Homo sapiens: one gene and its partner. The protein of the gene in region 2 interacts with the protein of the main gene of each other region in a pairwise test. Each region holds a gene or a part of one and is shown on either strand. Other genes may lie near its edges.

Evidence for each region. The genes of interacting proteins can lie anywhere in the genome.
Region 1: the proteins of POLR3C (region 2) and KIAA0408 interact in binary tests that used the Homo sapiens proteins (3 or more experiments, as listed by UniProt).

What each region holds. Positions count from the first base shown.
Region 1 is NC_000006.12:127,457,883-127,461,632, forward strand, and holds the start of KIAA0408 (uncharacterized protein KIAA0408), read right to left. Parts: upstream 1,508-3,750; 5' UTR 1,293-1,507; intron 1-1,292.
Region 2 is NC_000001.11:145,822,280-145,826,029, reverse strand, and holds the start of POLR3C (DNA-directed RNA polymerase III subunit RPC3), read right to left. Parts: upstream 1,831-3,750; 5' UTR 1,661-1,830; intron 1,586-1,660; exon of another isoform or gene 1,502-1,585; coding exon of another isoform or gene 1,483-1,501; intron 274-1,482; coding exon of another isoform or gene 254-273; coding exon 107-253; intron 1-106. Other genes in the region: E3 ubiquitin-protein ligase RNF115, read left to right, coding at 2,157-2,258. UniProt on the Homo sapiens protein: DNA-dependent RNA polymerase catalyzes the transcription of DNA into RNA using the four ribonucleoside triphosphates as substrates.

The DNA.
Region 1 (3,750 bases), on a different chromosome or scaffold from region 2:
TCCAAACAAACTAAACAGCGTTCCTTAGGGGCAGCTGCTCCATTGCTACTTCTCTCTTTTTAGATTATTGTTTAGAGTACTTGTTTCTTGCTGTCCTTATTTCCTTTTGCTAAACATATCACTTTTCACATAATTAAAGATTTTTCATTTATAAGAGGTTACATATTCCAATAGAAATGCCACACACAGTAGGTACTGCTAATCTCACAATTCCTAGAAGACTCATTTGGCCTGAAGATGTTTTGCTTCTGCTTAACTTTGATGGATTAGGAATTCCCCAGCTTATAACCTATCAGAGTAATGTACCATTTACCTCCTAAATTCTCTATCCCTTTCTCCAGGCTATTATAATCACTTGAATTATTTCAATGAATTAATAAATCTCATTCCTCTCTATTGTTCACTTGCAATTGAATCTTTCCAAAGACCACCATGATTTGATTTTGTTAGAGTAAAAGGGAAATTTTTTTCATTGCTGTGTATTGCTGATTTAGCACATTCCTCATGCTCCAACAAGGTCAAAGAGACACTACCACATGCAATTCCGAATGAATCAACTTTACCGTTTCATTTAATTATCTTCTTCCTTGTTTTCTTTACAGTTATTTACTCAAATTAGAAAACATCCAAGCTGTATGCACACTGATTTTACTTATAAAATGCAAACTTTAAAAGCAAACATTTGGTTTGAGTAAACAAATGTCTAAAACTAACCATCGTGAACAAAAGACATAGTGGTAAGTTTCCCTCCTAAACGTAGATTATTCAATTATGAATGGCATAGACTTCAGCTCAAATTACAGAAACACTAACTCTACAGTGAGTCCACCACCACCTTAGATAAAACTAAAATTTATTTTTCACCGCAATTTTCAAATACCAAGTCTCCAGGATTGTGACCTTTAATTTGCAAATGTTAAAAGTCTTTATATGAATAAAAAAAATCACATTTGAATAAATATACTTAGTGAAAATCAATGATGGGCAAAGTGCTTTTCAAACAACTGAGAAGCAGTGTTGGAAAAACAGTCTCAAAGAGCGGATGGTACTGTCAGTCCACAGTTGGGAAATCCACCCTGAGCAGCTGAACAGCCTTTTTCCTAGGAGTCAGTACAATCTGTTATGCACCCCGCCCACTGTTTTTAAGCCCAGACACAGACAACAGCAGAGACAGATGTTGAAATTACACTCCACTTAAACAGTATCCATAGTTTAAAACATCTCAACAGCAGCCCCTTTGTATCCTGCCATAATTAGTCACTTGCTTGTAAACTTGCCGGAAAGAAACATACCTTTCACACTGGGGAGAAATCCTATGGATGCTCGACCACTGGTCAATTAGCAGTGGAAGAAAGTGGATGGCTAGCTGTCTTAAAGAGAAAAGTCTCAGCTCGGTGAATCTCGATTCTTTACAAGAAAAGGGGATGCAAAATAAGTCCAACCATTCCACAGAGCAGTACTGACAAGTCCCTTTGAAACCTTCACCACTTTTACAAGTCAAAAAGCTGCTCAGCTTAGTGTCACAGCAGCAGCTGAGACTACTGTGACGTCAGTTACTTGGAGGCGGCCTTCAAGCCACCTCTTCCAACCAGAGCTCTGTAACTTTAGAGCAGCTCATGCTCTGGGTAAACAACTCCAGGTCCAGGACATTTTTAGCTTTTATAATGGAGCCCAGTATTTTCAAACTTGCCAAAAGAGCTGGTTGTTAACATCATACAATGACAATGGCCAATTTTAGATTTATTTTATTAGGAAAGTAAACTCATTTTTTTATAGGCAAGAATTATCTCCCTCCTTCCATAATTCTTTCTCCTTCTCAGCTGGTGGCAGGATGTACTCTGCTGCACCTTTAGAAGTTTGCATCTGGATGTGGCAGAACAATATGTGTAGCATAATTATATATATTATGCACTCTCAAAAGATCTGTGAAAGTTATCAAACTTCTATCTTCAAATAAAATAGAAATGGAACATAAAGTCCAACCTCTTAGCTCTCTGTGATTCTGACAGTGTGTTGCTTTTATCTACAGTAGTAGCGATGTCTTTACGTTAGAGAAAATCAGAGCCCATGGGAAAGGATGAGATTTCTTATTGTGGGAGGACAAAACACACACACACACACACCCCAAAAATGAGATACCTATGGGCTTATTTTCCACTAAAGTGTGCTGCAGCCATAGGAAGAGAAAGCAGCCTAAGTGTATGGAAAAGCTCTCTAAATCATGATCAAATCAGCCTGTTCTGAAATGCTAGGAGATCTTGCCTCCCCAGCGACATTTTCAGGTTTATTGTGGCTTTGTACACACATGCATCTGATGATATTTGGTTTAATTTAGTCAAAAAAGTCTCTAGAGCAATTTTTTGCCTAACTTAGCAAATACACAAGTTTAAACAATAAGGTCTTATCTTCAAGTCTGAAGAGCTTCCCTGGTGTGGTCTTTAAAGTAATACATATTCACTCACATTATTTTCACCTGCTTCCAGATAAACATTTCATGAGGAGCTAAAGTTTAGTAATAGTAACCTGCTCACAGTAGGACTTTAATACATGTAGGACAATCAAATGAAACCATACTCTGTGTCTGGAAAGCCTGACATCATAATCTCAACAGCAATAACAACAATAACAGTGATAGTTATAGTAATAATAGTGATTATTCACTGAGGGGCAACCCTCTGCAAGGTTCTGTGCTAAGTACTTTGAACAGACCTTTATCTGAGTTCACCCTCAGAGCAATTCTGTCTCTAGATACTGATAATCTGATCTTACTGATAAAACCCAAGCAAGGCTCATTGTGGTAAAGCATCATGCAAAAGTTCATAGAAATGCACCCATGTGGAGGAAACGGGTTTGAACTGTTTTGTCTGATTGCAAACCATGGAATTTTGTCATAGAGATCTAAGTTTCAATTCTGCTGCCACCACTTATCTGTGTGATCTTGCAGACCCTGATTCTTCCTTAAAGACATAATTATATTTACTTTAAGAGGCCATAAGAATATGAGGGAATATATATAGCGCCAAGCACACAATAAAGGGTAGCTCATGTCTGCCTCCATGCTTATGAGGCTAGGAAGAAGATTCTTTGAGAGAGGGAAAGGGAGGAGGGAGTTGCACAAAAACATCAATACAGAATTGTCTTAACATTGTTTCTGGCCGGGTGTGGTTGCTCACACCTGTAATCCCAGCACTTCTGGAGGCGGAGGCAGGTGGATCACATGGGGTCAGGAGTTCGAGACAAGCCTGGCCAACATGGTGAAACCCTGTGTCTACTAAAAATAAAAAAATTAGCCGGCTGTGGTGGCTCAGGCCTGTAATCCCAGCTACTAGGGAGGCTGAGGCAGGAGAATTGCTTGAACCCGGGAGGCAGAGGTTGTAGTAAGCAGAGATGGCATTCCTGCACTCCAGCCTGGTTGACAGAGCAAGACTCTGTCTCAGAGAAACAAAACAAAAAACATTGTTTCCTTTACCTTTTCTTCTACTCCAAACTTCTTAACTTCTATGTATCACTTGTAAATCAAACTAAGACTATTTTGTAAATCCTATCGAAAATTCAGATAGTATGTGTCTAAGTTACAAGAGATGTTAGGTTGGACTATACTTCCTAAGTGTCACTCAGTAGTACCCATTTCAATCTCTTTTAATGGCTGTCCCAGTGTGATTGTCCCAGGGCAATCACAAATAATTGCCCTATGTTTTAGAAAGAATTATGTCATTCATACCTGATGACATACTAATTTATTTCAATGTA
Region 2 (3,750 bases):
GGCTTTCTTCATTTTTCCTTTTCTGGGGTGAGAAGAACAATATTCAAAGGTGGGTGAAATAAATTAGTGAAAGAAATGAGAGAAAATGAATGTCATTTAGACATACCTGATCCAGTGATGTTCCTGTGTCATGGGCAATTACTCTTAGTGGCTGGCTGCCGGTTCTTATCAGATGGACTCCAATTTTTTCTACAATCTCTCCAAAATGCTCTTGCAGCAACAAAGAACAGAGCTTAATTTCTGCTTGAGTCATTGTACTGGGGAGTCTGAGAGCTAGGGAAAAAACACCAAAATGGTACAATAGAAAGTCTTTCACGCTGGAAGCAGAGCTGCTGAGTGTAAATTCATGTATTCTTTCTGGAGGGCAATTTGACAATACATATCAAAAAGCCTTAAAAATCTTGCATATCTTTGAAACAACAATTTCTTTTTGGATATTGTGTCCAAAGAAAGAAAAAGCTAATAATAATGAAGTCATTAGTTCTCTTTATAATACCGACTTAGTGGAAACAATCTAACGTCTAACAATAAATGATGCCATACCCATACAATGGCATACTACACCAACATTTAAAGTTATTTAGTACGATGCGTATTCATGTAGAAAATTATTCATAATAGGCTGGCGCGGTGGCTCAGGCCTGTAATCCTAGCACTTTGGGAGACCGAGGTGGGCGTATCATGAGGTCAGGAGTTTGAGACCAGCCTGGCCAATATAGTGAAACCCCTTCTCTACTAAAAACACACAAAAAAATTAGCTGGGCGTGGTGGCGGGTGCCTGTAATCCCAGCTACTAGGGAGGCTGAGACAGGAGAATCGCTTGAAGCCGGGAGGCAGAGGTTGCAGTGAGCCGAGATCGCGCCACTGCACTCCAACCCGGGCGACAGTGCGAGATTCTGTCTCCAAAACAAAAAAAAACAAAAAAAATTACTCATAATATATTAAGTGACAGAAGCAAGCTGAAAAAATATAAAAATTCAATTATTGTAAAAAAAAAGGAAAAATGTATGCATAGGAAAAGACTATGCATCAAATTTATCTCTATGGGATTATGCGTGATTCTGATTTTCCTTAAAGATTGGGAGATGATTTTGCGGTCTGTCACAGACCTTAGTTTCTACACTTCACTGCTTGGAAGAATTAAGGTCACTGTTCACAGCTCGGTGGGAGTGAACAGGCAGTGTTATTCTCAGTCCATAAAGGAAATGATAATTTCGAAAAAGAAATTTAGGAGGTAAAGGACTGCTTCTCAACAGGGTGTGTCAAACAGGAGATGAGGTTACGTTGTTTGCAGGACAGTATTCAATTCTTAAACTTCTACTCCTTGACAAAGTTGACACAATCAGAAACGGACGTAGTTAATTTTATGATTACTTCCTTATTACAAATTGCTACCAAACATTGTTTACTTATTTCTTCCAATTCCTAAGAAGCCAAGTCTTTGCCTCCCCGTCCCCACCCCGCCTCAGTATCACCAGAGACCTATTTCGTCCATCCACATATCTTTGGAGAAGCATTCCCAGATCCTTTGCCATCCTCGGAAAGGGCTTCCAAGGCGCTTGGCTCCTAGCTCTACACTTCCTTTACACAGGTTCCCGTTTCGGACGTGGTCTCTTGGTCCAGTCAGTGCCGCCACGTTCAGACAGCATTTTCCACTAACCTCAGGGTCAGCGCAATCCGGGGGCTCCAACTCCAATTCGGCTGAGCTTCCCGCGACGGCTTCCTACGGCTCCCGCTGGCCTTCTAGGCCGAGGTGGAGCCCACCGCCCTTTCTAGGACGCGGATCGCCACCGAAGAAGACGCGGAAAAGCAAAAAGCGCGTGCCACTCTACCCCAGAGTTTCGGCGGCTTCCGGGGACGCTCTTTCTTTCTTCTCGCTGGAAGACTGGAGGACCAGCGAGGGGCTGTTTGTGGAGCCGGCGGGCGGGCCGTTTGTCTCTCCTTCCTGCGCCTCTTTGGTGCTGGGAGGCGGGCCGCAGGGTAGCTGTTGGCGCCGCCGCGTTTCTGGGCCTGGCCAACTCACGTGACCGACGCGGGCTCTGAAGCGGTGGGCCGCACCGAGGCGGCGGCGGCGGCGACGACTGCAGCTCGGGAGGTAGCGGCCTGGCGAGGGACGGGCCGGCTGCCCTCTCGGACGGCCGCGGCGGAGGGCAAAAATGGCGGAGGCTTCGGCGGCCGGGGCGGACTCGGGCGCCGCTGTAGCCGCCCACCGGTTTTTCTGCCACTTTTGCAAGGGCGAGGTCAGCCCCAAACTACCGGTAAGAGCGCTGTGTTCTCTATACTTGGGAACCTCATAGATTCCTGGCCCCGATTTCCCGGAACTGGGTCTGGAGCTTTCTGCACATCATTGACTCGCCCGACATCGGTCTGCCGAATACCTGCTGCCCACTTCTAAGCCGCCGGCCCTAAACCCTGGGCATCACGGCCTCGGCCCCGTACCTCCTGCCCACCTCTTAATTCATCCTGGGCTGCTCCACCTGACCTCACCTCTTTACCTCCCGTGTCCTTAATTTTTTTTTTTCTTAGCAAGTTTCCCTCTGATAACTCTCCCCTCAATTTTCTTGCATTCTTTTATACCTGGTCTTTTTCCTACGATGACCTCCCCCCACACTTCTTCCACTGTGTCTTCTCACCTTCCTCTGTGTTCTTTTCCACTTTTCACCCCCCACCGCCCCCGCCACCTCCCTTGTCAGTGAAGCGAAATAGCGGATTGCTGAGGATTGTCACTCTTCGGTTTTTTCTAGGGAAGGAAGCACAGAAAGGGGGTTGGAAGGTATCTGTGGGGCGAAAAGGGGGATTTTGCTCTTCAGTGGTTTCCAGGGTCCTTGTGACAGTGAAGACAGCAGCGTACTAATGACTTGCAGACGGTCTGCACTCCTATCACTGTTGAAGGAAATGGCTTTAGGAAGAAGGCAGGACGTACTGTTTCAACTTCGTTTATTTTGGTTGTCATGCTGCCAGTGTCTTTAATATCATTGTTCCGCCCCCCGCCCTGTCCCTTTCTTCACCTAAGAAAAAGAGCCGGGACAGAATGTTGGGGATGCTTCCTCTGACGTGAAATTGGTTTTCACGAGTTTCTGCCAGAGTGTTAGCCCCTTGAGAGGCAGTGCTGTGGTTGGGAAGAAAACACTTTTGTAGGTCAGGCGCGGTGGCTTAGGTCTGTAATCCCAGTGCTTTGGGAGGACGAGGCAGGAGGATTGCTTGAGGCCAGGAGTTTGAGACCAGCCTGGGCAACAGAGTGAGACCCCTCTCTACAAAAACAAACAACATTTATGCAGCATACTAGCCAGCACCAGCATCACAAACCCAGAAACTGTTTTGGGTTGGGTTGTAGCTACTACGAGGAGCTCCCCCAGAGTGAATGTCAATCCTGTCCTTGGCCAACTGTCTTTATGGTTGTTCCTTTCCTTACAAGTGTCCAGGTTCAGTCTTGTGATAGAGTGGCAACATAATGTATGTTTCTATTTATGGTGTCTCAGATACAGTGTAGGAGAAAACCTTCTGAAGTGAGTCTGTATATCTTATTTCTTAGAAACACAAATGGAGTCCAGTGAATAAGTGCTTAAAGGGTGTTTTATAGTCTTCTCTCACTCAAAAGTTTTGTTTAAGGCATTATGATACATTCTTTCCTCTCTACTTGCCGCACCCCCTACTTCAGAGTCATAGTTTCATCTAAATGCTACTTAGCTGTTTTTCTTTTTTCTTTTTTTTTTTTTGAGACAGCCTCTGTCTATCACCCAGGAGCATGAT